Linked DNA regions of Homo sapiens: regions 1, 2, 3, 5, 6 and 7 are each linked to region 4. A link means that fine-mapping ties the variant in region 4 to the plasma level of a protein whose gene starts in the linked region. Region 4 holds a variant in brackets. A gene starts in each other region. All regions are shown on their forward strands. Region 1 holds the start of NELL1 (neural EGFL like 1). Region 2 holds the start of MAMDC2 (MAM domain containing 2). Region 3 holds the start of CD300A (CD300a molecule). Region 4 overlaps SLC39A8 (solute carrier family 39 member 8). Region 5 holds the start of CPQ (carboxypeptidase Q). Region 6 holds the start of SDC1 (syndecan 1). Region 7 holds the start of SLITRK2 (SLIT and NTRK like family member 2).

Evidence for each region. PIP is the posterior inclusion probability: the model's chance that the variant is causal. The UK Biobank Pharma Proteomics Project read protein levels with antibody pairs (Olink). The fine-mapping took linkage between variants from a reference panel, not from the people measured, so its PIPs are less certain.
Region 1: NELL1 starts here. The variant in region 4 is fine-mapped to the plasma level of the NELL1 protein (UK Biobank, PIP above 0.99).
Region 2: MAMDC2 starts here. The variant in region 4 is fine-mapped to the plasma level of the MAMDC2 protein (UK Biobank, PIP above 0.99).
Region 3: it holds the start of CD300A, and the variant in region 4 is fine-mapped to the plasma level of the CD300A protein (UK Biobank, PIP above 0.99).
Region 5: CPQ starts here. The variant in region 4 is fine-mapped to the plasma level of the CPQ protein (UK Biobank, PIP above 0.99).
Region 6: SDC1 starts here. The variant in region 4 is fine-mapped to the plasma level of the SDC1 protein (UK Biobank, PIP above 0.99).
Region 7: it holds the start of SLITRK2, and the variant in region 4 is fine-mapped to the plasma level of the SLITRK2 protein (UK Biobank, PIP above 0.99).

Annotation. Positions count from the first base shown.
Region 1 is chr11:20,667,176-20,671,577 of GRCh38, forward strand. It overlaps NELL1 (neural EGFL like 1), which reads left to right and starts at 2,411. Exons shown (of 20, transcript NM_006157.5): 1 at 2,411-2,603. The coding sequence starts at 2,549.
Region 2 is chr9:70,041,673-70,046,074 of GRCh38, forward strand. It overlaps MAMDC2 (MAM domain containing 2), which reads left to right and starts at 2,176. Exons shown (of 14, transcript NM_153267.5): 1 at 2,176-2,559; 2 at 2,912-3,025. The coding sequence starts at 2,526. LOC124902179 (a long non-coding RNA gene) reads right to left here and starts at 2,369. Exons shown (of 2, transcript XR_007061571.1): 1 at 2,282-2,369. RefSeq lists a silencer at 2,161-2,455.
Region 3 is chr17:74,464,019-74,468,420 of GRCh38, forward strand. CD300A (CD300a molecule) reads left to right here and starts at 2,616. Exons shown (of 7, transcript NM_007261.4): 1 at 2,616-2,725. The coding sequence starts at 2,686. It overlaps LOC124904056 (a long non-coding RNA gene), which reads right to left and starts at 3,756. Exons shown (of 2, transcript XR_007065899.1): 1 at 3,532-3,756; 2 at 1-732. RefSeq lists silencers at 3,108-3,167, 3,208-3,267 and an enhancer at 3,628-3,757.
Region 4 is chr4:102,265,265-102,269,666 of GRCh38, forward strand. It overlaps SLC39A8 (solute carrier family 39 member 8), which reads right to left. Exons shown (of 9, transcript NM_001135146.2): 7 at 2,608-2,815; 8 at 2,226-2,410. Among named protein-coding and RNA genes, the nearest start is that of SLC39A8, 78 kb to the right of the region's middle. RefSeq lists an enhancer at 2,166-3,365. The variant C/T (reference allele first, on the strand shown) is at 2,288.
Region 5 is chr8:96,641,138-96,645,463 of GRCh38, forward strand. It overlaps CPQ (carboxypeptidase Q), which reads left to right and starts at 4,105. Exons shown (of 8, transcript NM_016134.4): 1 at 4,105-4,265. RefSeq lists a silencer at 3,980-4,326.
Region 6 is chr2:20,221,500-20,225,499 of GRCh38, forward strand. SDC1 (syndecan 1) reads right to left here and starts at 3,631. Exons shown (of 5, transcript NM_002997.5): 1 at 3,303-3,631. The coding sequence starts at 3,368. RefSeq lists enhancers at 825-1,332, 1,333-1,839, 3,599-4,000 and silencers at 1,998-2,197, 2,608-3,067, 3,088-3,147, 3,188-3,607, 3,668-4,000.
Region 7 is chrX:145,813,944-145,818,333 of GRCh38, forward strand. It overlaps SLITRK2 (SLIT and NTRK like family member 2), which reads left to right and starts at 3,886. Exons shown (of 5, transcript NM_032539.5): 1 at 3,886-4,083.

The DNA of each region.
Region 1 (4,402 bases), not on the chromosome of region 4:
GTCTCACTGTAACATTCCACCACCAAGTACATACATAGCCATGTGTCCCTTCATTGTCACTAGAGAAACTTGCTGGGCCCATTCTATGAAGGTCACCTTAGCTTAACAGACCTACACACTCAAAATCCCCACTCAAGGGTTGCACTTATAGGAGGAGATTGCAGTACTTAGTTATCTAGAAAAGATTTATGACCTTGTTGAGATTAACTCTTGTTACTGTTAATGGATGTTATGCTGCAAAGCTATGACAGAACATATGTCTTGCTTTATTTTTTAATGGAACAAGCTAAAAGTCCCATCCCACAGGACCAGCTAATTACACAGAGACTTTAAAGATAGAGAGCTCTGAAGATCTTACCCAGACCACCTTTTCCCCTTGCTGGGGTCACTGTACTTTTAAGGATTCTGGGCTTTCTGAAATCAATAAAAGGGCCTTGGAAACAACAGTCCAAAGCAACTCAAGGCTGTTCCTGCTGAGGTGTACTTAAAGACTGCAGAGGAGAGACAGGAAATGGCTCTTATAATACAACATGGTGTATGGTGTCCTTGTCCACAAGGCCCAACAAGACTTGGGAAATCCTATTCTCTTCAAGATGTGTGATTTTAATGTTAGCTTTAAATGCAACACGCTCCGGGTGGAAGGAAAAACACGTGGACTCTGTTAGTGAAAATACAGAGTCAAGGCAGACAGATTTCCTTTGGGTCTTAGCCGAATCTGAGTTGGAGTCAGCTGACATCAGTTTACCTCTTAATCATTCAGCTCAACTTCTGGATTGTGCAGTAGACTTCTTGAGCTGGAATTTACCTGCTTGTTCACTTTCTTTTTCATCTGCCAAAGGACCACAACATAAAGGGCCAAATGGGACAGTGGCTTGCACACAGAAATATCCAGAAAAATAGGGCAGAGACCAGAACAGCATGCTAGTAAAGCCTTCTCTCTTAATAAGCTGCGCTGATTTGGTGAACTTCACTGGGGCTCCTGGGGTCAAAGTTGTGTAGGGGTTAAGGATATAGGAAGTGAAAGTGGGTGCAAGTGAGAAGGGCACGTTCTTATTAGTGAAGAGGATTCTGAAACGTTGGAATTGGTTTCCAGGAAACGAGGGACGGCTGTTCTGAGGTTTCCTTGGACTCCTCTGGGATCCCTGTTGTGAATATCAAAGGAGTACTGCTGGTGAGGGGGAGCGGGGGCTTCAGAGAGAGTGGGAAGACTGAGCAAGCTAAGTGGAGTTCATTTGGTATAAATCAGAGGCTGTCATTTCAGATTTCATGACTCTACATATCCAGTTATAAATAACGTTCCTAGGTGTTAGTAGGACAAATAGGAAGTGGGACAGAAGTCTTAAATTTGGGGGATCTTCATAGGGAAGGTCAGGTCCTGAAAGGGTCGCATAGAGGGGAGAGGACCCATTCTCTTCTTGCCGGCAAGTAGAAAACAAAGCCCAGCCCAGCTTTTCTCTCCAGAGAATGTTGTGGTGGGAGAGGGAAAAGAAGGTGGAGGTCCCGGAGGAATTGCACATGGGGCCAAAATGTGACTATGAAAGAAGAGTGGGCTTTTGATAATACCATTAAGAAAATCACGCAAGAAAGAAAAAAAGATGGTTAGGAATTACCCCTATGTGGCAGCATCTGCCCTGCAGAATGAGAAGGTTTGCAAATAGACTTCCCAAACCCCAACCACAGCTCGCTCCGCCTCGAGGACCCCTTTTCTGCACCCCCACCTCAGCGCCCTCTTCCTGCACCCACAAAGAGAGTACTCAGTCATAGGGGTTCAACAGGAGAGAGGAGACAGAAGGTACAGGCGGTGAGCAGGGACTCAGCCATCATCCCCCTCAGGTCCCTCCCCACCCAGTTGACAGAGCGAATCCCGAGTAATTGTTTTCCGAGGGGGTCCGTGCGCGCTCGGTGGCGCCGCCTCGGTCTGGGTTCCCCCGAGGAAAAATACCCACCCGCGAGGGCTCGGCGGCTTTTCGACTCGGCGGGGATGAACTGTGGCAACTTCGGCAGCCCCCACCGCGGTGCGGAAGTAAAGAGGGCAACATTGGCGACTGCGGCTCGGAGGGGCTGGAGCGCGTGAAGCCGTGGGGGCGCCGTGCGCCTCCCGCTCTCTCGTTTCGGCCGCAGGTCCTGGGACTCCGACTTCGGTGCTCCGGGTGATAGCGGCTGCGGCGCCTGCAGTCCAGATCCTCGCAGTTCTGCGGGCGAAGGAGGCGAACGGAATCGGCCCCCAGTGGGGAGCGCAACAAGCCACAGTAGCCAAACCCCGCGCTCCTGCCCGGGCTCCCAGACGAACGCAGCCGCAGCGGGGGGCCGGGCCCCGAGCCCCACGCCGCCGCCGCCGCGCCAGCGGTGGGGGGCGGGCTGGGGGCGGGGCGGCCGGGGCTGCCTTCCCGGGCGCATATGCGAGCGCAGCACCCGGCGCTGCCGAGCCACCTCCCCCGCCGCCCGCTAGCAAGTTTGGCGGCTCCAAGCCAGGCGCGCCTCAGGATCCAGGCTCATTTGCTTCCACCTAGCTTCGGTGCCCCCTGCTAGGCGGGGACCCTCGAGAGCGATGCCGATGGATTTGATTTTAGTTGTGTGGTTCTGTGTGTGCACTGCCAGGACAGGTAAGCATGACTGTGGCGGTTAGAGGGATCCGGGAAATGGGGGTGCCCACAGACCACGGCGGCGTGGGGAGACCTGGAGCCGAGCTTTGCGCTGGTCTGGGGAACGGCGGTAGCGTGGACCGGTTCCTGGGATCTCTTTGCCCTGCTCGGAGTGACAGGGTGAAAATAGGGACTCACGGGCTTGAAGATGTCCCCGTTGAGTGCCCCTTCTCAGGGGACCCGGCCTCAGGGGCGCAGGAGTGAGGGGCGCGGCCGAGTAGGCGCACCCTCTTGCTGCTAGTAACCGGCTTTCCGTCCCAGGGAGTCGAAACCCGCAGCAGGGCGGGCCCGCGTGCCCCGAGTTCCCGAACTTGTAAGGTGCTGTGGAAACCACTCTCGCCGACCCCCGCCAGGCTGGGAAGGGGTAGCTGCGGGAGTCGCACCCGCAGAGGGAGCGCTTCCGGCTGGCGGGCGCGGCCGGGGCCCGGGAGGGCGCGGTGCGGCGAGGGCAGAGAGCTGCGGGAGAACCCTGGGATCCCGCGATCTCCTCCTGTGCCTTCCTGACTACCCAGGAGAACTCCAGGAGTATTCTCCTCCGCCTGTCTTTGCTCCCAAGGGCTGGGCGAACAATTATCTGAGGGAAATAGAGCAGTGGAGACAATCTGGGGAAATTTTCTCAAGCTCAAACCAGTTTTCTCTTGCCATAATCGCAGGGTTCCGTGTGGGGAGGGGGGAGCAAGGATGACGCTTGATTGTCTGAAGTCCCCACTTCGTTCTGCCTCCGGAGACGCAGTTGTGAGGACTCTCAGCGCATCTTCTTCCTTCTGCTTCCACCGGCTCCCTTGCCCAAAAGTCCCCTGGGGTTCGGAGACTGGCTTGCAGCCGCCTTCTTCAAAGAGCTAGTAGTAGATGCGGGGAGACTGGGGTGAGGTGAGGTGGGGTGAGATGTAGGAAATTGGCAAAAATAGGGCCTGTCAACTGGGGGGAGTGTCGGAGGTTTGCAATCCTACCCAGCCATCCTCCGTACGCGCTGCACCCCAGAATCTGTGTGGTCATTCCCTTTCCCTTTATTCTCCCCCCTTTACCATCCTTATTTCCTTCTTTAGAGGCGTGGCCTTCTCTCTAGGCCAAAGAGCAAGTTCATCTGGAGAGGGCTAAGAAGGGGCGTCTGCACTTGGTTGGCTCAAAAGTTCCCTCCGCTTGCGCCCAGGCGCCCCTCTTTGGCAGTTAGCCCGCTGGAAGATCTAGCGTCTAGGAGCTTTCAGAGGGCCCTTCCCACTTCCCCAGGACTGAGCAGGCAGCGGCTTTCGTCTGGTTAAGAATGTTGAATATGGATTTCTCAAGGGACAAAAGAAACCTCCCATTCCGTTCCTTACCTCTATCCGAGCTTCCCAGGCTGCGGAGACGCCAAGGCTCAGTCTAGCTTAGAATAGTTGCTTCTTGAGTTCAGGCCCATCCGGATGGGTTAGTCTTTTAAAACCAGGACACGCTGAAGGAGTGCGCGCACCCCAGGAAGATCAGGACAGGCAAGACTAGTGCAGAGCGTGGGCTACTGGCTCTGAGCGCGAGAGTCTGGTGCTCGTGGACATCTTACAGAGGAACCGCAGACAGGAAGAAGCTAGGTAGGGAGGGGGCAACCCGTTAGTGAGTTCACATCCCTAAGTGCACATCACTACGGAATATGCCTAAATCCTTTGTTCTCATTACTCCTTTGAAAAGTCGCCAAAGTACCCTTATCACGGAATGGAACGTGTTTCAGGGTTCATTGCTTGTGGAAGGGGTCTTTAAGAACAGGTATTTTCCCTCTTTCCACTTCCAAT
Region 2 (4,402 bases), not on the chromosome of region 4:
GGGAGAAGGTTACTAATTTTCTAATACTGAAAGTGACATCTGAGTGAAGACCTCATTAGGCGGTGAGTTGTGTGGCTCTTTGTGGAAGAGCATTTTGAGCAGAAAGAACAGCCAGTGCAAAATTCTGAAAGGATAGCTGGACTGTGTTTGAGGATCAGCCAAGAGGTCTGTGTGGCTAGAGAAGAGTAAGCAGGGTGATTGAAGTCAGAGAAATAAGAGGGTGGGGCTGGGTGCAGTGGCTCACGCCTGTAATCGCAGCACTTCGGGAGTCCGAGGCAGGTGGATCATGATGTCAAGAGATTGAAACCATCCTGGCCAACATGGTGAAACCCTGTCTCTACTAAAAATACAAAAATTAGCTGGGCGTGGTGTCACACGCCTGTAATCCCAGCTACTTGGGAGGCTGAGGCAGGAGAATTGCTTGAACCTGGGAGGTGGACTTTGCAGTGAACAGAGATCGCACTCCAGCCTGGTGACAGGGTGGGATTCTGTCTCAAAAAAAGAAAAAGAAGGAAAGCAAGAAAAGAAAGAAAAGGGTGGAGCAGGTCCTATAGGGCCTGGTTGGTCATCGTGAAGACTTTGGACTTTACTAAATGACTTGGGAACTTGTTGGGTCTTGAGCTAAGGAGTGACATGGCCCAATTTCTGTATTAAAAGGATAACCCTGACTAGTGTGTTCAGAATAGAGTAGGGTGGGCAGGGCAGAAAATGAAGGGAGACCGTGGTCAGGAGGCCACTGCGGTATCCCAGGTTGATGGCAAGGGCAGCTTGGACCAACCAAGGCATCACCACCATGGGCACAGAGCATGGTCAGCATCTGCTGTGTTTTGAATCCTGAGCTGATAGAAATTGGCAATGTCTGACAGGAACGGATGAGCTGAAGATGCCTCCAAGTTTTCTCTCCTGAACAACTGGAGGAAAATAGTTCTTTTACTGAGATGAGGAAGACACAGGGGACGGGCAGGTTTGGCAAGAAATATGCAGCCTTCATGTTGGGACCTGTTAAGTATGAAATAGCTCTGAAGCATCCGATTGGAAATGTTGAGGTGGCAATGAGATCGAAGAGTCTGGCGTTAGTGAGTAGTCTGGGTTAGAAATATAAATGTGGGAGTTATCAGGCTATCATTGGTATCTAAAACTATGAGACTTGAGGACAGCATTGAGGGGCTGGATAGAGAAAGAAACAGGAGTGACAGGGAAGAACTTGGAGGCACTCTCATGTTAAGGGGTTACAGAGGTAACGCAAAGAGGCCGAGAAGCGGCGGCCAATGAAAGACCAGGAAACCCAGCGGTCTGGAAGCCAGGTGAAGGCATGGGAGCAGGTTGAACTGATGGCTCAACTGGAGTTTGTTAGGCCAGTGGTCCTCAAAGTATTGTTCCAAACCCGCTGCGGCAGCAGCAGCCTCTGGAAACTTATTAGGGACGTGCAGCCTCTCAGGCCCACTCCAGAGCTACTGGATCGGAAACGGAGGGTGAGGCCCTTCAGCAGATTCTGATGCACCCTCAGGTTTTAAAACCACTGCCCTCCTCACAAAATTGCCTGCACAAAATTATAAATGGGAGAAAGGAGGAGGAGGAGGAGGAAGAGGAGGGGAGGAAGAAGAACTCTTTACAAGAAAAGAATATTGTTGGAGACCCACTTAGTGCCCAAAGCAAACAGCTTCCTCAGAAGTAACTCCCTCCCCAACAACCCCCTCCCAGTGTAAAGCCTCCCATTAATCAATCTATCATGGCTCTTTGGAGAGAAGGAATGCCCCCATTTCACCGGACGGAGGGAATGCTGAGCACCAGGCATGCCAGACATTCCACCGGCTAAAAAAAGTGGGGGTGGTATTCCAGGGTTAGCATTGCTGGACCGTAAACGCTGAAACTCCTTAGATATAAAGCTTATTCCACCCAACCGTTTCCAAATTTTCCTCCAGGCTGTCCTTGGAGAATTCCACCCTCTTTCATTCTGGGGAGAAGAAGTTAAAATTAGGGCCAGCCCTGCGGGACTGACATGCCAGATGCAGGGAAGCTGTCCCCAGAAATAAGCGAGTTCCCACCGCGGCTGGGCGGGGCGGGAGCCTCGGGTCCCAACCCAGCGGAGGGACTCCTGGAAGGCCTGCCCCTTCCAAGTGTCTGCAAGGGCTCTGGTCCCAAGCTTTAAAATCCTGAGCGAAGGCACTGCGGGCCGACCTCTCCTCTCCCAGCCAGTCGTGGCTGGCCTTTCAAAGTGTGCAGTTGTCTCCTCCCTGTCCAGCCCCATCGTCGCCCAGGACCAGCTGGGCCGCGGTCTGACCTGAGGCTGCTGCTCAGCGCCGGGGCGCTGGCGCTCTCCATTCGAGCACCTTCCAGCATACCGCTCGGCTCCGGGAGCCGCTCTGCAAAGTTGGGCAGCTCAGAGCGCAAGCTTTGCCTCTCGACTTCTCCCTCCTTGGGTCCCCGGCGCCCCCGCCTCCCACGATCCCTTTCACTAGGAGCAGCCAGTCCCAGCGGGCTGGCAACTTGCACCCCTTCCTAGTCATCCTCCCTGAAACGCGACCATGCTGTTAAGGGGCGTCCTCCTGGCGTTGCAAGGTAAGGCCTGGACCCCGGGACAACCCCGGGGGCGCTCTGACGACTCGCCCCCGCTCCTGCTGCCCCCGGGGGTCCGGCTCACCGTGCTGGGCTGGGCCATCCGAGGGCGCCTCCTGATCCTCCGCAGCCGCTAACTCCCTCCCCTGGCCAAGCCTGGGGTGGGGGTGGGGGTGGGCGTGGGGTCGCTCAGTGGAGGCGCCCGGGGATGCTGGGGGACAGGTACTGCATCCCTCTCCCGCCCCCTCCCGCTCGTCTTTCCCCCACTTTCACCAGGTAGTCCCCCTGGGGCTCCCCGAGTTGGTGCAAAGGCTCCTGGGTGGAGCTCGAACTGAAACTCGCTTTGTGCCCGCAGCCCTGCAGCTCGCCGGTGCCCTCGACCTGCCCGCTGGGTCCTGTGCCTTTGAAGAGAGCACTTGCGGCTTTGACTCCGTGTTGGCCTCTCTGCCGTGGATTTTAAATGAGGAAGGTAAGGAGGCTCGGTGGAGAGGGGCGCGAAGTGAACTTTCTTCCTTGATGGCTTGCTTTTTTTTCCCACATGGGTAATGTTATCTTGGAGTTAATTCTCCGCGGCAAGAAAAGTGTGAGTCATGGATCCTCCTTCAAGCCCTCAGCTGTGCTGCAAGGGATGGCCGAGGCAGGAACGGGGCGGGCGGGAGGCCGCCCTTTGTTTACCTGGCCTATGGGTAGAAGCTTAAAATTTGCGTCTCACCCCAGCACTCCTTAATGGAAGGGAGAAACGGAGCACAGCTAATGATTGTTCTCCGCTGTGGGCCTCTGCAGGCACACCAGCTGTGTGCCTCTGCAGGCCAGCAACCTTTCTGGTCCTCAGGAGACATGTCTGTGAGTTGGGAAAAGTTGCATGGGACTAGTTCTCCTTCAGCTTTGCAGAAATGGTTCCACAATTCTGTGATGGGACGTCAGTGCTAAGACATCACGTCTGCCTTGACCCTGACAGTGTTTTTTGCTGCATGATTTCATCCTCACACTCCTGTTTGTAATCCTGCCCTGGACAAAAGAAACCATGTACACTGCCAAATGCCTGGGGTCCCTGTCTCACTGGTGGTCATTGTCTTACTACTCTATACTGTTTGGGTCCCAAGGACAAAGTTTAAATGTGGGGTCTTCTGAAGTGTCATCTTGCCTTTATATAGTTTTTTTTGTTTTTTGTTTTAAAGTGTGGTTCTCAGTACCCAATGGCAGGCGGCACTGGGTGTCCCTTCTTTCCTTTCTCTCTCTTTTGTCACCACCAGTGAAGCCTGATGCCCACAGACTATTTGGATTGGAAAATAGCCTTCTTTAAAAAACATGGTACCCTAGATGAAACCAGCTCACCTCCTTCCCCACTCAATTGTCCTCAGGCCGCAGATCCTCCCACCTCGCTCCCTGGGGGAGGATGGAGCCCGGAACCCCTGGTTAGATGTATGAACTGTCACCACAGCTCACTCTGCCCCAGGCTTCTACTCAGGGTTCTGCATACATTAGCTTCTCTGACCCTCACAGGTAGGTGATGTTGGACCCGTTTTACAGAGGAAGGAATCTCAGCCATAGAATATTCAAATGGCTAGTCCATATCACAGTGTCACTGAGTGGCTAACTCTGAGTGTCTAGTTAGGAAGAAACAGGAAGGAACTGGTTCAGTAGTAATCTCCATCTTTATCCAACAATTGCCAAGTCTTGACTACTACAGTCTACTTAGGGGTGGCTGGGAAAAAGCAATTCTTGATTTATTATTCGAGGGATTCCTATCTTGCTGATGGCTTTAGGAAAGTCTCTGTAATCTTGCCACTCACCCTTTCCCTATACTGGCTGTATGGAAGCATTGCGGGAGATGGCCTTAGAAATG
Region 3 (4,402 bases), not on the chromosome of region 4:
ATAATAATATTTATTCCCACAGAGGAGCTGTCATTATTGACGTTTTACAGAAGCCACAGGCTTTGCTCAAGTTCATTCGGTGGTAAGTGGACAAGCCACGCCAGAACTTAGCCTTCTGCTTCTCTGTCTGGCCTGGACGTTCAAGATTGCAGCAGCGCCTTTTTGGTCATGGTTGAATCAAAAAATAATTTTTGAGAAACTTTGCAATGATCAGGCCACATAAGCCACCGAATATGACACATCTCCTGCATTTTTATGTTCAGCTCAACAGTGTCATGATCCAAAGTGTCTTGGATCTTTTTTTTTTTGAGACGGAGTCTTGCTCTTGTCACCCAGGCTGGGGTGCAATGGCACGATCTTGGCTCACCGCAACCTTTGCCTCTCGAGTTCAAGCGATTCTCCTGCCTCAGCCTCCCGAGTAGCTGGGATTGCAGGTGCCCGCCACATTTTTTTTATTTTTAGTAGAGACAGGGTTTTGCCACGTTGGCCCGGCTGGTCTCGAACTCCTGACCTCGTGATCCGCCTGCCTCGGCCTCCCAAAGTGCTGGGATTACAGGAGTGAGCCACCGCGCCCGGCCCGAAGTGTCTTGGATCTTAATGAGGTTTAGTTAATCTATGACTGCATCATCATGAAAATTTCCACAATGTCCACCAGGCTTTGTCATTGAATCTTCCAGCAGCAGAGCCCATAGGTCTCCTTGGCTTCCTGACACCTTCGTGGGCAAGGCGCCCCTGTGTTCAGAAGGAAGAGGAAAGTGACAAATTCCAAAAAGGGCCAGAGGGAAGGATATTCTTGGGATCCCATAGCTGGCACAGGGCTCCATGTGGGTGGACACTCTGAGCTTGGGGACTGCAAGCTCCCAGGTGACGCATTACACATTAGGAGTGGCATTTCCTGTGCCCACCTGGTCATTCTGTGCAAGCTGGGGCACCTACTCAAGGCACGTGTGTGAGACTGTGTGTGTGTGAGTGTATGTCACTGTGTGTGAATGTGTCAGTGTGTGAGTTTGTGTGTGAATGTGTGAGTGTATTTCAGTTGTATATGTAAGTGCGTTGTGTGAATTTGAGTGTTTCAATGTGTGAATGTGTATGTGTGTTTGTATCAGTGTGTGTGAATTTGTGTTTGTGTGTGAATGTGAGTTTGTGAATGTGTGTGGGTGAGAGTGCCTGTGTGTTTGTGTGTGTGTATATGTGTGTGTGCATGAACGTGTGTTTGTGAATGTGTGCGTATGTGTGTGTTTGTGAATGTGTGTGGGTGTGTGAATGTGTTTGTGTGAGTGTATGTGTGTGGGTGTGTGTGAATGTGTGTGTATGTGAGTGTGTTTGGGTGAGTGTGTGTGTATGTGAGAGTGTGAGTGTGTTTGTGTGTGTTTGTGTGTGGGTGTGTGAATGTTTGTGTGTGTGTGTGTATGTGCATGAACGTGTTTGTGAATGTGTGTATGTGTTTGTGTGTACGTGTGTGTATGTGTTTGTGAAAGTGTTTGTGAATGTGTGTGTGAGTGTGTATATGTGAGTGTATGTGCATGAACGTGTTTGTTTGTGAATGTGTTTGTGTGTATGTGTGAGTGTGAATGTGTGGGTGTGTGTGAATATGTGTGCATGTGAGTGTGTATGTGAGTGTGTGTTTGTGAATGTGTGTGGGTGTGTGAATGTGTGTTTGTGTGTATGCGAGTGTGTTTGTGAATGTGTGGGTGTGTTTGTGTGTTTGTGAATGTGTGTGGCTGAGTGTGTTTGTGTGTGTTTGTGAATGTGTGTGGGTGAGTGTTTGTGTGAGTGTGTATGTGAGTGTGTTTGTGAATGTGTGTGGGTGAGTGTGTTTGTGTGAGTGTGTATGTGAGTGTGTGTTTGTGAATGTGTGTGGGTGAGTGTGAGTGTGTGTATGTGAGTGTGTGTTTGTGAATGTGTGTGGGTGAGTGTGTGTGGGTGTGAGTGTGTATGTGAGTGTGAGCGTGTGTGTGTTTAGAGTCTGCACTCTGTGTGGATCAGGAAAGGGGTCCTTGCAGGCTCGCTGAGTCCCTGCTCTGTGCCCAGCCCCGAGTTGGCTCCAATGGGGCTATATAGAAAGGAAGGCATGGCCGGAGGACCTCTGTGTCAAGTTGAGGACACATTTCCAAGACTAGGAACCATTCAGGGACTCTGGAGTCACGATGACAACTCCCCTTCCCTCAGCCCCGAAGCCCAGGCCTGGACCTCCAAGGGACTCAGGGAAGGGACTCAGGAAAGGGGAGTTCCCCCTGGCAGCCTCCTCGTGGGCACCACCGAGGGTGAGAGGAGCCAGCTCAGCGGGTCCCACCCCCAGGGTTGCCCACCTTGACCACAAGGAAAGGAGGGAGGAGTTATTGGGCCTTCCACTAGGAGGAGACCCGGGGAAGTGAGAGTCGGGGATCAGTCCTGCAAGCTACGGAGTCACTACAGGGAGAGGTCTCATCACTAGAAATAGCCGAAGAACCTGCAGCCTCAACCAGCGTTAAGGAGGACGTGCCGTTTCTAGGGAGTCTTAGTCGGGGCTCACCAGCTTCCTGCATTTTCTGACCGGCTCCAGGAATAGAACCAAAAGAAGCTGAACAAGGAAGCAGCGCGGCACCAAGAAAAGCAGAAGTCGGGGCCTTGGAGGCGTGACTTTCCCCTCGGGTCCAGGTAGGGCCTGGAGCTGCTGCAAGTGCCGCCTGTGCTGGGGAAGGGACCATGTGGCTGCCTTGGGCTCTGTTGCTTCTCTGGGTCCCAGGTGAGAGTTTCCCTTCCCGGGAAAGTCTGCGGCAGGGAGGGAGGGTGCGAGGGGCAGGGCCGCAGGGCAGGTATCACACGAGACGCCCCGAGTCTGGACTCCGTGCAGAACGCAGAATGCGGTGCGCTCTGTCTACCACATAAGATGGACAGATGAAGGTCCACACCCCTGGGAGAGGAAGGAGCCAGGGCCTCTCCCGGCTCTGCACCCACGTACCTTGGCTGAACCACAGCGGGGCAAGTGATAAGGGGTGGGTGCAGAAAAGGGACCTTTTAGGTTTTCAGTTGAATTCTTACAGGAAGGGGGACGAGAGGCAGGATGTGTCAGGGTGGGTGGAGAGTGGCAGCCACTGACTGCGAGGGGCATGTGGTGAGGGTGGGGGAGATGCCGGGCTCACTGGGTGCAGGGTATGGAGGAGGGGGGTGTGGGGAGGGTGGGGGAGATGCCGGCCTCACTAGGTGCAGGGTACGGAGGAGGGGGTGGGGCGGTGAGGGAGATAGGGTCGGGGTGGGGAGCAGATCGATAGTCTCTGGAATGCGGAGATTTAACCAGGGCAGCCCAGCGGCTGGGGCCTGAGCAGGGGGAAGTCCCGAGGCAGCCTTGGCTGGGGTTAGCCCCTGCATGGGCCTGAGAACCAGGGGTCAGTCCTCTCCAAGAAGGGGATATGGGACAGAGGGGACAGAAAAGGTGGTGGGGAGGGCGAGGAGGGAAAAGATCGGGCAGAGAAGCGCTGAGATCTTCTTTAGGGAGAAGCGTGGAGTTGAGTCTTCCCTGTCCAAGCGCAGGGATTCCTCCCGCAGAGTCACCTGCTGTGCCTTCAGTCACGTCCACCGCTCTCCTCAGACAGCTCCTGTGCAGACTCCTCAGGCCTAGTCCTAGGGTATTGTACGTCTTTGTGGTTGCTTTCCTTACAGATCGGAGGTTTTCTGCAATTATATTTGCTAACTACTTGTCTGTGGGAAGGTTATTACTTTTGGTGTCTTGACTTGGAAACGGGTCATCCTCCCATAACAGGTGCTCCTGCGATTCTCTTGGGTGTTCTTCTGTTTCATAGGGTCGGTGTGCATGGGAAGGTTTCAGTTCCTGTCTAATATCTGTTTCTCTTTCTCCCATTGACTCATTGGCTGGTACAGCCGGAGTGAGGCCCAGCGGACATAGTGGTAGTGGTTGTCCCTGCCTTGTTGCTGACTCAGGGAAAAAGGACCAGAGCTTCTCATTATTAGGAAGAAGGGATCCACCAATGACTATTCACAAAGCATTTTTACTTTTATTTATTTATTTATTTATTTATTTATTTATTTATTTTTTGAGATGGAGTTTTGCTCTTGTTGCCCAGGCTGGAGTGCAGTGGCGCGATCTTGGCTCACTGCAACCTACGCCTCCCAGGTTCAAGTGATTCTCCTGCCTCAGCCTCCCGAGTAGCTGAGATTACAGGCATGTACCACCATGCCTGGTTAATTTTGTATTTTTAGTAGAGATGGGCTTTCTCCATGTTGGTCAGGCTGGTCTCAAACTCCCAACCTCAGGTGATCCACTCACCTTGGCCTCCCAAAGTGCTGGGATTGCAGGCGTGAGCCACCAAGCCTGGCCAACATTTTTATTTTTTTGAGACAGGGTCTCCCTCCGTCACCCAAACTGGAGTGCGGTGGTGCAATCACGGTTCACTGTAGCCTCCAC
Region 4 (4,402 bases):
TGGGTGTCAAGGAATAGGGAGGCCCAAGGAGAGGGAGATGGAAGGATGGCTGATCAGGGGTGCAGGGAGAAAACACACACAACATTTGTCAATTAAGTTCACCATTTTATACGAATGTGGTTCATGGCGTCCCAAAACATAATAGTAACATCATAGATCACTGATCACAAATCACTATAACAGATATTATAATAATAATGAAAAGGTTTGAAATCGTTTAAAAATTAACAAAATGTGACAGAGACAGGAAATAAGCCCATGCTATTCAAAAAATGGCACTGACAGATTTGCTTGAGGCAGGGTTGCCAAAAACTTTCAATGTGCAAAAAACCTAGCATTTACAAAGTGCATCAAAGCAATGTGCAATAAAACAAGGTGCTCCTGTAATAGAATGCTGGGAGGGGTGGTATGATCATTTACTTTGGATGTTTAAAGGTTTTAGTACTGATAGCTTAATAGGAATATCTAGTTCTTTCAGGCATCAACAAGAGTAAAAGTACTGAAGTAGTATTTTTCTCCAACTGAATCAATCAGTGGGATGGAATTTACCTCATTTTATGTTCTCTTTCTCCTTTTCCATTACCTGCTCTCTATGCTTCACCCAACCCATTCTTTCATGACCTCAAGTTTACCCAGCAAAATCTTCACATCTACCATCACCTGTACCAGAACTTGTATTTCTCTAATTTTTCAGTGGACTAAATCCTTCACGTTTTACCTTATATCTTGCTAAAACACTTTTGCTAGCTAATCCTAGTTTATTCTAGATTCCTTTATTATCATCTCTCATCATATATTCTACTTTCTCTCTTATTTCATAGCATTTTTTATTATTTGTAATTATTTAGTCATCTGTGTGATTTTTTGTTGTTTAATTTAAGGATCCCCTCTTTCTAGAGGAAAAGCCCCATGAATGGAAAAGCCCCTTGAACTGTGCCTATTTTGCTCACTCCAGGATGAGTATTATTTCTTAGTATTATTTCTTTAAACTGAACAACTCTAGTAAGATTCCATTCTTATATCAGAAAGTAAAATGACTATAAGATAGCATGAGACATTAATTTTGTGACAAAAGTTATAAATGTAGCATTGGTTCTAAGAGATGAAATCCTTGCTCTTCTGAGGGTCTGCAGAGAACAACGAACAGAGCTAGACAAATATAATTTGGAGGTAAGAATGCAAATAAAAAACTCAAATTATTAAATTATGTATGTAATACATCCAGTTCCAAATGCAAAAGAAATAGTCCTTGATTTTCATACACTACCATATTATCATTTTATAGAAAGATTTCCATGATTTATTTTAAAATGCACAGGATATTCTCTCTCTTACACACACACATGCACACTCTTTTTTTTTTAGATGGAGTCTCGTTCTGTCGTCAGGCTGGAGTACAGTGGCACAATCTCGGCTCACAGCAACCTCTGCCTCCCGGGTTCAAGCAATTCTCCTGCCTCAGACTCCCGAGTAGCTGGGATTACAGGCGCCCGCCACCACGCCCGGCTAATTTTTGTAGTTTCAGTAGAGACAGGGTTTCACCATGTTGGCCAGGATGGTCTAGATCTCTTGACCTTGTGATCCGCCCGCCTCGGCCTCCCAAAGTGCTGGGATTACAGGCATGAGCCACCGCACCCGGCCATGCACGCTCTTTTGAGCACAAACACACACATACACACAGATACAAAGACACAGACATTGAACAGATATAAATATATACTATGTCAAATAACTATTGTCAAAATTTTACCAATTTTAGTGTACCAGTTTTAGTTTAACCCAAAAAGCTGTCACTGTTTAGAACTTTGAAATAACAAAATGCTATTTACTCTAATAAGTTATTCCTCTTCCAAATGTGGCATAGACACAAAAGAGGGAGAAAAAGGAGAAAAAGTCCTATAGGGACATACTATAACATAAGACAAGATGTACCAACCACAAGGGGAATAGAGATAGAGGAAAATATCTCTATTTCAGCAAAAACAAATCATTTCACCTTCAAACAATACGATTATGTTTTAAAGAACCAGTGAGGATCAGTTTCAAATTACTATTAGTGTAAACTACTCAAGTAGAATGATCTGTTGAAATGGGATTGTTCTGAATTACAACAGAAAGGCCTTCCACACTGCGGAAAGCAGAAGGCCACCCTTAGTTAACTTATAATCCAGATACTCATTTCCAAATTTTAAATTAAAAGAAAATACAAATTTTAAGCTTCTTACCATATCTGCCAGAGAAATATAGAGGAACATGCCTCCAGCAAGTGCAAATATAATATTTGGAG[C/T]GAAATTGTTGCCCACCAAAATGCCAAAAGCTAGCCCAACATAGCAGGAACATGCAGAAAGGAAGTTGAATAGCAAGGCTTGTCGAGTGCTCATCCCTGCATTGAGTAGGATCACAAAGTCTCCTAGAAGAAGAAGAAGAAAATATCAAGTGAATAGTTTTTTTTTTATTTCTGGATGATATCAAAGATAATCATCAATGTCCAACAAGGTCTTCATTTTAGTGCATCAGAAGGATTTTAAGAGCATGTCACCTGAAAAGTCTCATTCCACTGAAATCAAGAAGTAAGCAGACTTTTACAATATGAACAGAGCTCCTTACCTAACTCGTGGGGAAACTCCTCACATAGGATTGCTATGGAAGTACTGAGTCCCTGAAGGAGAGACAAGGTGCAGGAAGCCCCAATCGCCAGGCCATCGATGAAATTGTGGAGGGCATCGCAGAGCGTTATCATCCAGGCAATCGTCCCTATTTCTGACAGTTTGGGCCCCTTCAAACAGGTACATGAACTTGGCTCTTTTTTTCCATCCTAGCAGAAAATCAATTAAAATGATAACCAACATTTCTTGAAAGTCTCAGAAATACAGACAAGTTGGAGATGGGTTGTGCTTGAGAAAAACAAATTGTTCCAACAGAAAGTCTTTTAGAGTAACTAGGAAACCCTAATAATATATAACAGAGCAAAGAAAACTTATGGTTGAGAGAAAGGAAATTCATCAACTGACACACCTCGAATAAGCCACTAACAGATATTTTCCTTTACTTTCCCTTTAAAACAATTCTTTTGACTTGTATAAACTTCTTCCTACTGCCTTTCTAAAATGTAGCAGATATTAACCTAAGAAATTTATTTATACACAAGATTTAAAATGAAGGAAGTTATTCAAAGACTAAACTTAAAGTCTTTTTTATGTTACAATTTAAATGTGAAATCCACAACTAGAGCATGATGAATGACATCAGCAACATTTGTTCTAACCCCTCCTATGCCACCATGTGACAGGGAGCAAGTTATCACAGAGTTCCTTCAACTGTGAAATGAAGACATTGTACTAAATGATTCATTTATTTATCAACAACTTATTGAGTTTCCATTCTGTTCCAGGTACCCTGTGGAGGGTTTAGGCTGTAACAATATGGTCTCTACCAGCTCCAAAGCTTAATTATTTTCTTAACAAATTGCATGAAGTGTAAATGGAACAGGCTAGCCTTTACACTAACACTTCCTTTCATGTAGAAACAATTAAAAAATAGAAAATCCTGTGATGGACTCTTTGTAGGAATTTAGATTTCCAGAAAATTTACAAAATTGTACAAAATCAAATGACAAATGCCAACTAAAACACTTTCCAGAAGTTGTAGAAAAAGATAAAATGCAAATTCATTTTTAAGTACAAAAGCACTTTGCAATTAACTGGAGAACATTTTATTCCTAATTCTCCTCCTCTCACCTCTACCTAAGCAGCTAATCATTACATTTATTGAACTTCTGAAATTTGTAAAACACTCTGTTGAATGCTATAGGAAATACACAGAAATGGAAAACACAGCTTCTGTCTTCAAGAAGTGTATTTACATTGGAGAAACAAGTCATAATATATATGGATACATTAAAAAAAAAACATGCAATATATATCCAACAGAGAGGGGCTTACTTCAGAGCAACCATCTAAGAGGTTTTACAGTTACTCCAATATCACTTCACCACTCCAAACACTTTGGGGACCAACACTTTCAGAATCAGCCTTAGATCCTGCAATACATCTCTTTACTATTTCGTTAGTGGCAAATCTGCACCTTTGGATTTTTGTTTGTTTGTAGGCACAGATAAAAGCATTTGGAGCAAATATTTTTTTAATTAATATGAAATGAATGGGAAACTGTTAGTAATAGGATTCATCATCATTGTCATCACCAATGTGGTCGTAGTAGAAATAGTAACAGCAAAGGCACATAGCATTTATAATGTGCTAGGCACTGTTCTAAGCACTTCAAATACCGAATTCATTTGGAACAATTCTATGAGGAAAGTACAACTGTTACCATCATTTTATAGTTGAGGAAATTAAAGCACAAAAAGGTTGGTAAACTTACCCAGAGATACAAAAAAAGAGTG
Region 5 (4,326 bases), not on the chromosome of region 4:
GTTCGTTGTTACCCACCTTCTGAAGCATACTTCTGTCAGTTCAGCCATCTCAGCCTCAGTCCAGTTCTGTGCCCTTGCTGGGGAGGGGTTGTGGTCATTTGCAGGAGAAAACGCACTCTGGCTTTTTGGGTTTTCAGCATTTTTGCGTTGATTCTTTCTCATCTTTGTGGGCTTATCTACCTTTAATCTTTGAGGTTGTTGACTTTGAATGAGGTTTTTGTGGGGTCTTTTTTGTTGATGGTGTTGTTGTTGTTTTGTTTGTTTTTCTCTTAACAGTCAGGCCACTTGACTGCTGCAGTTTGCTGGAGATCCGCTCCAGACCCCAGTTGCCTCACTTTTTCCTGTATCTGGAGGTATCACTAGTGAAGGCCACAAAACAGCAAAGATGGCAGCCAGCTTCTTCCTCTGGAAGCTTCATCTTGGGTGGTTTCTGATCTGTTGCCAGCCCTCATACACCTGCAGCAGGTGGTTAGAGACCCCCATTGGGAGGTTTCACCCAGTCAGGAGGAACGGGATTAGGGACCCACCCAAAGAAGTAGTCTGGCTGCTTTTTGTAGAGCAGGTGTGCTGTACTGGGAGTGGGGGTGGGTGGGGCCCTCATAGTCTGGACCACCTGTATTCTCCACAGCTGGTAGGCTGGATCAGCTGAGTCCACTGAACCATAAAGATGGTGGTTGTCCCTCTCCAAGGCAACCTGTCCCAGGGAGATATCAGAGCTCTCTCCATAGCGCCCTGGCTGGAGTGACTGAAGCTCCTGCAGGGAGGACCCACCCATGAGGAGGAATGGATTGGGGTCCCACTTAAAGAAGCAGTCTGGCTGCAATTTGGCAAGGCAGCTGTGCTACATTGTGGGGGACCCTTCCTTGTATGGTCCATCTGTATTATCCACAGCTGGCAGGCTTGAATGGCTGAGTCTACTGAACTGCAGAGATGATGGCCTCCCCTCCCTCCAGGAGCTCTGTCCCAGGGAGAGATCAGAGCTCTGTTCATAAAACAGTTGCTGGAGGGGCTTAAGGAGGTCCTCTCTAGCGAGGAGGAATGACTTGGGGTCCCGCTTACAGAAGCAGTCTGGCTGCTTTTTGGTAGGGCAGGTGTGCTGCATTGTAGCAGAGGGAACCCTTCCTAGTTTAGACCGTCTGTATTCTCCACATCCAGGAGGCTGCAGCAGCTGAGTCGGCTGAATCACAGAGACGGCAGCTGCCCCACCTGCTGGGAACTCAAACCTGTCTCAGGCAGACTCCTATCCACTGCCATTGGCTGGCTGGGATTCCAAGCTGGTGGGTCTTAACTTGTGGGGTGTCATGTAAGTGGGGCCTGAAGAATGGTATTGCTTGGCTCCCTGGATTCAGCCCCCTTCCTACAGATGGATTTCCTGCCTTGCTGATGATTGTGGCCAGAGTATGTAAAACTTCTGGGCCTCTTTGTATGTGCCTGAGTGGCTGCTCTGTCAAGACAACACACAGCTCTGTGTATCAGACTCAAGGCCCTGGTGGTGTGGAGTCATGAGGGGGTCTCTTGATCCACAGGTTGCAAAGATTCATGGGAGAAGCATGGTTTCCTGGGTTGCACAATCACTCACCACTTCCCTTGGCTGAGGGTGGAGGTTCCTTTGGCTCTGTGCTGCTCCGAGGTGGGCTCCCCACCCTGCCCAACTTTTCTTCATTCTCCATGGGCCGGTGGTTTGCCTAGTCAGTCCCAATGAGAGAACCTGGATATTTCAGTTGAAGGTACTGAATTCACTTGCCCCTTCTCATTCCTCCCTGAGTGCTGCGGGCAGGGGCTTCTAATTGGCCATTATGGATTGATCTCCCTGCAGTGAAGTGTTCTAAGTAGGAAGAACACATGGTATTGTGGAAAATCAACATAGCATGGTGGCTCAGAAATAGATTCTGGAGCCAGGCAGGTTGCTTGGTTTGGAATTCTGGTCCTGCAACTTACTGCAACCTCTCTATGCCTTAGTTTCCTCACAGTTTAAAGAGGGATAAAATAATATCTATAGGTCTATTTGCGAGGTTTTAAAATTCTTGGAATAGTACCTGGCTCATTATACATGCTATAGAAATGCTTATTCAATTAAATAAATAAAAGCATCTTTGGTAAGATAACTCTGAACATTGTATGGTTTAGTAGAGGATGCTGACAAGAATAAATAATTAAAACATATCATGAAGTAAGCATAAAAGATAGTGGTAATGCAAAGATGCGAATGAGCTCTGCTTCCTGTGATTAGTGTGAGCAGACAAATTCACTGTACTCAGAAGCTTAAAGCCTAGCGTGGGAAGCTGACATGAATGAAAACCAACGGGAAAAAATGTTAGAGTAGAGGTGTAAGCAAGAGTGATTAATTTCAACTTGAAAGCAAATGGGGGAGGTTTCACAGAGAGGGGCCCAGCATGTTGGTTGATTGCTTGGGCTCCAGAATCAGGCCAGCTCAGTTTAATGCTGACTTTGTACCTCACTGGTTTTGTGACTTGACCTCTCTAATCCTCCATCTCCTTATCTGTACAGTGGGGGGAAATAATAATGATAATAATAGGTAGCTCATAGGACAAATAAGAATTCACAGTTAATGCATCAAAAATCTTAGCACAAGGCACTCAATAAATGTGAAGCTTTTATTGTTATTACGAGTTGAAACTTGAGTGGGAAAGAACTTCGTTCACATTAAACATGAGAAAAGGCCCAGAAGTTGAAAAGCATTTGACATAATTAAAGAACAGCAAGTCAGTGCCACTTAAACGGTAATCCAACCACCGCCAGTCAGTGAACAGCTTTTTACTGCTCCATGAACAGGTAAGTATAGAAATTGTGAGTAAGCATTTAGAAATAAAAACAACAACAACAACCAATAATTGAAAAACTAATTTTATACTTTTTGGCATACTCATTGTACACTTGTAATAAAAACTGGGCTTGTAGTTTTTGTCTCTTTTCTTATTTGCTAGCAGGTTTTGATTTGTATTTTACAGAAATAATGGTCCATGTCAGATTGGAAATAATAAAAACTTGTCTTTTACCCTTGATAGTTTGAGAAAAAAGTAATTCAGTGGGGTTAGATATGGCATCCGAGAGATGATTCGGGAAAGGTGGGCCAGGGCCATGTTTATGTGGACCCTCCAATGCCTCAGAGTTCACACTTGTTTCAGTGGGCAACAGGACTAGTAAGGTTTAGAGGGACTGTTAACCGAAGGTGAGTGGACTTTGCACATTTTATGGTATTTTTTTTTTCCCAGTAGGCATGTGCTTATTCTTTCTTTTCTTTTCTAATTAAAAGTTCTGTTTGGTTTTTTTAGTTAAGAGGAGAGACTGGAACTGCTCAGTGTTTCACAAAGATAACTGTTTGTATTTGATAAGAGTTTCGTTAAACAAAGGAATTTGCACTTATCAAAACATAAAGCATTGAAAACACTGAGCACATACTCTGTGACCAGAATGCGTGTGACTTGTTGAGATAAGCCACACCGGGTAATCAGATGAGTCTCCTTTCTTCTTGGGCACCCTCATATAATTCAGGCACAAACGAAAGAGAAAACGCTTTTTCTGATCTCTCAGTTCGGGTCATCTCTGCCTTCCATCATCACCGCCTAACAATCCTACACCTGGCAGGGTGGGAAAACGGTTTAATAATCTCTTCCCTTTGGGAGGCGTTTGACAGCTCAGAAAGCATGGCCTTTACTCAGGCTCAGAGACACACAAAAACCTTTCACGTTTTCCTTTCAGCTTCGCAGCCCCGTCCTTCTCCACCTGCACGGGCACCCACTGAAGCACAGGACCCTTCTGCCAAGCCATGAGCCTTCTCAGGCCCCTGCCGCCCGCCTCGCCTGAGGCTGCGCTTCTGAAAAGCACGCGGCCCTGGCCTGCGCACCACCCAGTCTGAAGGCGACGCCCCTGCACGAAGGAGTCAGGCCTAGGGGCTCGGGACCCAGGGCGACACTCAATTTTCTAACAGGAGCCACAGCCCAGAAGCTGAGAAGCCTTCCGGCCGATCTGTGGCCCTGAGGTCGCCCTTGGAGGGCGAGTGAGAACCCCCCAGGCGTTCCGGAGGTGGCCCCCAGCCCGAACCCGGCGCCCGCCCCGGCTTCCCGAGTCAGGTCTTTGCCCCGCCTCTCGGCCCCGCGGCCTGGCCGGCAAGCAGGGCTGCAGTCACGGGGCGGCGCGGAGGGCCCCAGCCCAGTCAGGGGTGTGGCCGCCGCCACCGTAAGGCTAGGCCGCGAGCTTAGTCCTGGGAGCCGCCTCCGTCGCCGCCGTCAGAGCCGCCCTATCAGGTGTGTTTGCAGCCGAACTGGCAGTGCCCGCGGGCGGCTGGGCCGAGGCCTTGGCTCCTAC
Region 6 (4,000 bases), not on the chromosome of region 4:
GGCAGAGATTAAATCATGCCTAGCATTTTTTGGTTGATAAAGGAAGGGAAATAAATACTTCAGAGAGTCATGCCCAGAGTAAGAATACTCGAGGGTAATAGGGATTCTTAGCTTGATGAAAAAATATGAATACACAGGACACCTCATTCCCAAGGGATTTCAGGAATCCAAAATTCTGCTGCAACAGAAAAGATTCCTCTAAAAAACTGCAGAAGTCAAGCTTTTCATTAATTCTTTCCAGGCTCTCTCCTTTCTTACTGTCTCCCTACCAATGTGTGTTAATGAGGTTTTACTGGAACCCATCATGAGCCACAGGTAGAGACTTAAACCGCTCCACCCTCCCTGTAGAGCTGAAGCCAGGGATGACATCACTTCTAGAAGGCTCTGAGCCTGAGCGGAGGCAGCTAGTGCCTCCCCCCATACCCTCTCTGCCAGGCTGTGGGAAAATGTCTCTACTAGCCCCCATAATTAGGGCAAAAGGGATTTTATGCCTTTCAAGAAAGAGAAGAGAGAAAGAATGAAAAATAGCAAATAACTATTCCAGAACAAGCCATTTTTCTTACATGGCAGAAACAAAAGACCACAGTAAACACACACACACACACACACACAGAGAGAAAGAGAGAGAGAAACCTTTTTAGACAAACCTGTTTTAGTCTCTTGGGAGTGGTTTTGAGCAACCTCCTCTCCTAGCAGCCTCCCCTCACCCATTCAGTCACTCCTTGCTTCCCTGGTCCCCAGGGGGTTTCTGACCTGCTTCCCACTGGGGCCAGAGTGAACTTTCAGAGAGGGTCAGATCTCTGCCACTTGCAAATACCTTCTCCCATCTTAAAGCAAATCCCAGCTGCCTGATTTCTTTTAGGAAAGGGGTATCAGAGCTTTGGGAAGGCAGTGCATGCCCCCACCTTTAACCTAACATGGACATTCACTGTAAGAGGAAGAGGGCAGAACTGGGAAAGAGAAAACAAACTAATCTTTGTAAGATCAGAAAAAGCAAAAAGAACACCTAAGCTTCAAGCCAGAGTCTGACCCCAAAGCTCAGGTGGGGCTTTCAGGCTCAGCTCAAGCACCTCCTCCAGGAAGCCTTCCCTCCCTGCAGCTCCAGGGAGTCTCCCTCCTTTCCCCTTTTGAGACTCTCCTGCCTCCTGGGCCCTATGTCCAAGTTTCTGGGCAAGAAATAATGCCTCACACTGCAGCATCTGCCCCAGCCCACAGAAAACTCCAGGAAAGGCAGTTCACGGGGAAGCCCAAACTCCACCTGCCTCCCCAGCATTAACGGGTGCGGTGGGATCCCAGGGCTCTGGAATGTCTGCTTTACCCCAGGCAGGCAAGGGAACCAGCAGCCCTCCTAAATCCAGCCGGAAATAGGTGGAGGACCCAACTTCAGCCGCCCCTGCTGAGGCCCCATCATGTGCGAGAATGGGGCAGTGAGGTGATGCCCAGCGGTCCAGGGAGGTAAGGCACCCAGCTCCATTCTCTTCTCCAAACTCGGAGCGAAGACTCCAAGCACAGTCTCAGTTCCACAGAAACCACCACCCTAGAGAGCAGCTTCTTGGACCTGAAAGCCAGGAGTGCATGAGACCCAGCTCGGAAATCATGGCCCTCCCCGTGCTCCCAGATACCCCTCACAGTCCAGCCCATTCACAGTTCAATAGGCACAGGGACCTCTCCTGGACCGGAAAATGTCTGGAAGCACGAGTCACCTGGGAAGCAGGGAGGGCGCTTTACACATCGGTCTCAGAAACGACTGTCCCTACCTCATCTCCCATGAGACAGACTCTGTAAAGAAAAAAAAAACCAAAGCGCTCAATAACTGGCAGCTACTACACGAGGCAACGCTTACGGAGGGTCAGCGCTGCTGAGACTTGTCCAGATGCCACATTAGCAGTGGAGAACCCGAGTGCCCACCCCGCCCCCGCCCCTTCCCTGCCCACGTGCCTCCCTTTGCCAGAGCTGGGGAAGTCGAACTGTCCAGATGTAGTGGCGAGACACCGCCACTTCCGGAAGGGGAAGCGCCCCTGGCTCCGCACCTCCCCTCTGCATCCCTGGGGATGGCCGAGCCGGCCCGCAGGAGGGACCCCGGGACGCCAGCACCGGGCGCGGGGGCTGGGGAGGCGAACTCGGGCGGCAGACTCGGGCACCGGGCGGCCCGCGCTGACACCTGGCTGCGGCCCAGGTCCCAGCCCCCGTCAAGGCCGGCGTTACGGGGCTGTTCCCAGGAAAGGGTTACAGGGGCCGAGAACAAAGCGCCCCCATTGGGGAAGGCGGGCTAGCGGCCGGTGGCCGGGGCGGGAGAGCCACTTTCTGGGGACCCTCAGGCTGCTCTTTGTCGGCCACGTCCCTCTTTAGTGGAGCGTCAGCCCCGCTGAAGGTGGATGCTGCATCCCACCCAAAGGCCTCTTACAGCCCCGAGCTCCACATCTGCCCCTCTTTTCTCCCAGCTGCACTGGGCGGGCCAAGGGACCCGCCTTCCCTCCGCGCGGCTTCAGCACAAAGCCGAGCCGGGGAGCGGGAGGCCATTCCCGGGTCCCCTCGCGTGGAAGGCGCCTGCGCCTCGGCCGTGCCCGGCACGGGAACGCGCCCTCCGGGGCCAGCTCAACTTCAGCAGCCCAGAAGTTGGGCTCCTCCGGGTCTCCAGCGTTCCGAGGCCAACTTCCCGGAACCTCCCGCTGCCGGGCCGGCTCAGCTCACCTCGAGCCGCCCACGGCAAGCCCGAGGGCCCTGCAGACGCTCGCCCGCGCCCCCCACGCAGCCCTGGCCCGGCTCCCCGGGCCAACGCGGCCGCCTCCCGCTCCCGCGCCGGCCGCGCTGCGCCCAAACTTGCCCTGGCGCAAGGGGCGGGGCGCCCGGGCTCGGCGGCGCTGGGGCGCAAGCCCGCGGGTCTGGTTTGAATTAGGGTCTGCAGGGGGGGCGTTGTGGCCGCGGTCACTGCATCCCCCCGGGTCACCGACGGGGGCCCGGCCGCCGCGGTGGCCGGGGCGAGGAGGGTGGGAACGGGCGACCCCGGGCGCCGCTGTGGGCTGGCGGGCTCCGACAGATGTGGAGACGTTTTACATAATTGAGCGCGGGGCCCCGGCCCCCCACCCTCCCCAGCGCGGGACCGGTGCGGCACCCACCGACAGCGGAGGAAATTGGGGCTGGAGCCCTGGTCTCGGGGCTCACCGTCCCGGGACCCGCTGGGCTAGCGCGGGAAGAAGGGAAGTCTTCGCTCCCCCTCCCCCTCCACGTGCACCCGCCGGCATCCGCGGGTGACCAGTCCCGGCTTCCCGCCGCCTCCCCGCCTGGCCGCCGGCCGCACTCACCGGCAGGGCCGGCTGCAGGCTCAGCGCCAGCGCGCACAGCCAGAGCCAGAGCGCCGCGCGCCTCATGCTGCCCGGACCGGCGGCGGGAGAGCGGCAGGCTGCGCGGGTCGCGGCTGCGGGCCGGCTTCGCGGGTTCCGCTGCTCGATGCTCTCTTGGGCGCCTGCCCAGCGCGCCGCTGTCCCAGGCGAGGGCTGCAGGGTCCGCCGGCTGGAGTCCGCTCTCTACTGCCGGATTCCTCTCCGCTCGGCTCGGATTCGGCCCGCACCTCTCCCGCCGAGCTCCGCCTTATAATAAACCCACAGGCCCTTCCTTAGCCGTTGCAAAAACTGGCCCCCCACCCCCAGCTCCGCCAGGTCTCCCGGCCAGCCCCAGTCCACACCCCCCAGGACCCCGCCCCCCAGCCACCCCTCCCGGCCCCTTCGGAACGCCCCACCCCCGGCCCGCTCCTAAGGTTCTTGCCTGCTTGGCTCCCGCTCCTCCGGTGGCCGAACGTCGCTTTCGGGAGCTGTGGTCCCCGCAAGCCGCGGTTCCCGGCCTTTCAGCTCGGCTGCTCCCTGGGTGGTGGGGCCGAGGCGCACCCCCTTCTGCCCGGGCCCGGAGTGCGGAGGCGCAGCCCGGGAGAGGGGCTGAAGGGGGGCAGGCAGTCCTCGGGCGCGAGTGTGCAGCGCCCTCTGGGCGTGGACGCGGAGCGCGCTCC
Region 7 (4,390 bases), not on the chromosome of region 4:
AAAATCGACTACAATAGAATAATATTTCATTATATATTGTTATATTACTTATTACATTTATATAATTACACGTATGTATATATAGTATACATATGCACATTACACACACACACAAAAGCCAGTGACGCTGCTAATCCTTCTACATTGCATAGGGCAGCCCCCACAACAAATAATCATTTGACCAAATATATCAACAGTGTTGAGTTTGAGCCCTGATGTATACATATATGTAACTATTTGAAAACATCTGTAAAATGAAAGATGGAATTTTTTTGAAGTTATTTTAAATGTTTGACATTACATGGCTCCAACTAGAATCATAAATATTTTTTCTAATGCTAATTCTGTTATCCAACTTAAATTAAGATGTTGGTTTCTGACTAAAATCAACCATTTCACCAAGAATGGGAGTAAGGGTAAGTTACTTAAATTTTCTGAGTCTCACTTTCCTCTTTTGTAAAGTCTGGCTAATCATACTGGCCTGTTGAGGATTGTCATGAGAAACATAGAAAACAGATATAAAATATTTTGTATAACTTATTTATTTTAAGAAGTGAGTTAAAAATTTTTTTAGTTTAAGATTTATTTGCACATACATGTACCACCGTTCAATTTTCAAGAGTTCTGTATACATCCCATCCTTACTGACTCCACATAGCAGGTGCCAGTTTTACACATGGGGAACTGAAATTGGTGTAATGCTGTTTTTGTCCCATTGTGAGAAAGTAGCACGGGTGGAATTTGAACCCAGGTCATTGGGCTCCAAGGGCTTGGATATGTATTTGATTAAAAGAAAAACTGCCCTGGGTCTTGGCCCAGCACTATTTCAATCAGGCCAAAATGCCTGCCAAATAATCCAAATAATTGAATTGAATTGAAAAATATCCACCTTTTCAATAACATCAGGAACAAAAGTCTACAATATCCTGTAAACTATAATTACTAATATTAAGGGCATGTCCGCTTTGTTGCGTTTCTTTATTTAGGAATTTGTTCTGTGGCACTCTTCTTTGAAACCTTTGGTTGGAAAGAAACTATGTTCACTGAAAATGCAGCACATTTTGTCTTCTTTTATATGTTTTAAAGCTTTCTAGTTCTGGATAGGTGTGAAGAAGTTGAAAAAGCAACATTCTCAGGTAAATTACGTACTACACAGTAATAGGACATCCTTTACATCATCCTGGAAACATATGCGCTTTTTATCTCACTCATCGCAGGTGAAATTTCTGGTTTTCTTCTAACCTTAGAATGAAATTATAAAAACCCAGGCAAGATTTAGTTTTATTTCTCTGTTTTTCCACTAGTTTTCCAATCGGGATCTCTATGTTGTTTAGTAACACGAACTTCACAATAGAAAGTAGCTTACAGTAAACCAAACCCCCACCACATGCAATTTACCTATATAACAAACTTGCACACGTACACCTGAACCTAAAATAAAAGTTTTTCAAAAAGAAAACAGCACATGGATATAAAGATACATTTACAGTGCTAGTATAAAGAAGAATAATGTGATTTTTATTAATGAACAGAAGTACATTAATATGGTGTCTCTAGTATTCAATTCTATTTGGAAATTTTCCTCTAACACAGAAGCTTTTAGAAAATTCAGCATAAAGCAGCTTTCAAATAAATTGGCATATTTAAATTTTTCACAGACTTCAAACTCTCCTCCATTATAACTGTCTATGCAAAACCCTCTCAGAAAGTTTTATATTGCTCATCAATTTTCGTGTCTGTGCATTCAAAGCACAGCTATCCACCTACTTGAAAATTTTATGCTGACAAAAAGAAAAGTCTGCTCTTTTTAATTTTGTCTTACTATCAGTGTGGTCCCATGTGGAAAGGCAGGCTGCTAAATGCTTTTCGAAGGCTGGTGAACAGGTTAGACTTGCTTACAAGGCTAATTAAAATTGATGCATGCCATCTATTACATGTTACTACTGGATCTAAATAAAGTATCACTTTTCATCATTAATGCCATGTTCCTTCTCTACTCTGTATAGAAGTTTTTGCTTATTTTGTATGTTCCCTTTGGCTACAGACACATCACCCTTCTTAGTAAACTGTCTGAGTTTTTCAGCATGACTGTCTCATTATTTCTGTATTGGAATGGCCTCTTAGCTCTGTGTTTTGCAGTTGTTTATAACATCTACTAAAAGCGACATGAAAAGATGACACAGTCAGAAATACGGTAAAGACAGAAGTAACAGTATTAACTGACCTCATTTAGTTAATAATATGATGTGCTCAGTGCACTGCTTTTAGTCTGTAGCAAACAGCACATTGGATGTTTACACTAATACAGATATTGTAAAAAGAAGAGCAATGCTTCTGGATATATAACCGTACATACACTGCCCACGTGCTTATGTGAGAACTATGTTATTCCGAAGTTGCTTATCTGAATGGTAGGAAGATTTCAAAAAGGCTTTCTCAAGAATGAAATAAAAGGAACAGTAATGACCCTTACAACTCCGAAGATACGATTATAATTCTTCCGACTATTATTAAAGCAAACTCTGTACATCTTCATAATATAAGATTGCCAGTAGTTTTCTTTTTAAAAAGCCCAGCATAATCTCCTTAGAAAACCATTATGAAAGAAAGCCAAGAAGAGAGGACAGGAGAAGCACAAAAGATTCCCACGGGAAGGACAAGAAAAAGGTGGTTGTCAGTGCTGTGAGAACGAGTTGAAAGGCATGGGAAATATGGAAACAGACAAATTCCAATGCAGATCCACTAGCTGGAGAGGTAATTTTGCGTCTAATTTTGCACCTCTCTCCTCGCCTCCCCGTCTGCTCTCCACCATCACGCTTTTCGACAGTAAGAAGGATTTGGGGTTTTGCAGACTCTAGCGGGCATGAAAAGGATAGGGGGTGGCAACGACTTGAATTAATGACGTTCTCCTACAGGATGGAGGGGAAAATGACTTAGTGTCATCAAATGAACTCCCTACTCCTGGCATAAATTTATCAAACTGCAACTTTATCTCGAATACTCTGGAAGAGTAGAGGAGAGGCCCTAGAGAAAGCAAGTCTTGAGGGGAAACGCAATGCTCTTGGCAAAAACCGCACCTCCCTCTTGAACTACACTGACTCTTTTCACAGAGCGCCTTCCTTTAATAGAATCACAACCACCTGGACTACTAATAAGAGGAAGAAGAAAGGAGAAAAGGGAAGGGAGGATGGCAAAAATCACGCTCTAGAAGATCCAGGCAACGTCGTCGTGAAGAATAAAGGGAATCAAAATGGGCACTGGAACGCTGCTAAGGGCTTGCTTTGTTAACACACTTGCACAACTCAAGTTCAGCTCTATCTTATGTTGAAAGTCCTTGTTTACGATCCTCGTAGGAGGTTCTTAAATATCTGCCTGCGAACTCCCAAAGACTGGGCGCTTACTAGTTAGGGGAGGCAGCTGTCCCGGAGGGTGTCCAGCTCGGATGGCTGACTGCTCTTTCACTTGTCGTTAACTTCCACCCAGTAGTCTTAGTCTCCCCTTGGACATGGTACCGACCGTGTGCCATTCTTATTTCACTTGACCGAGCCCGAGCTGCAGCCCAGGGTGGAAGCCGCAAGGGCTGGGCAGAGTTCCAGGCAAGAGGGACCGAGAGGCGTGAGCAGTGCTCCGCAGCGCTTGTCAGAGAAATGGAGCAGCGGCTCCTTTGTGGGCTCTTACATCCCCGTCCTGGGTGCACAGCCCGGATATTTGATCTGTGGGGTGATTGATAAGTGAGGGAGAGGGGGGACGCGATCCCTCCCTCCCTCCTCCCTCCCTCCTCCCTCCTCACTCCCTCCTCCCTCCTCCCTCCCTCCTCCCTCCTCCCTCCCTTCTTCCCCTCTCCTCCCTCCCGCTTTACTTCCCTCCTCCCTCTCGCCTCCCTCCCTCCTTCCTGCAAGAAGCGTTGCCCGTTGGCTAGCTGCTCGGTGGGGATCTGCCTGCCCTGGGGGCGCCGCCCGCGCTCCCCGCGGTGCTCTCGCTCCTGGGCTGCGCCAGTCCGAGGCGGTGCCGGCTCCTTTGCCTCCCCGAGTCGCAGATGCTGCGGGCGCCTCCGGGAAAAGATCTGGGCGGCGCGCTCGCTCGGTAAGTTCTGAGCACTCAGGGACGCGGTGGCGACGCGGCCAGTGAGCCGGCTTTCCTCAGTCCGTTGCCTTTCCCGGCCACCTCTCCTTGCGAGGGGCACCAGCGTGGGGAGGCTGGGCGCCATCCGCGGAGGGCAGCTCGCTGGCGGCCGCCCTCTACCCTCAATCCCCACTGGAGATTCCTCACCCCGGGACCGTCCGCGCGGGCGTGGTCGGGCTCCGCGCCTCGCGCAGCGGGGTGGCACAGGCGGCCAGGGAGGGCCCACGCACCCGGCGCGAGCTAGAAGCCTCCGGTCGGCCTGCAGTGC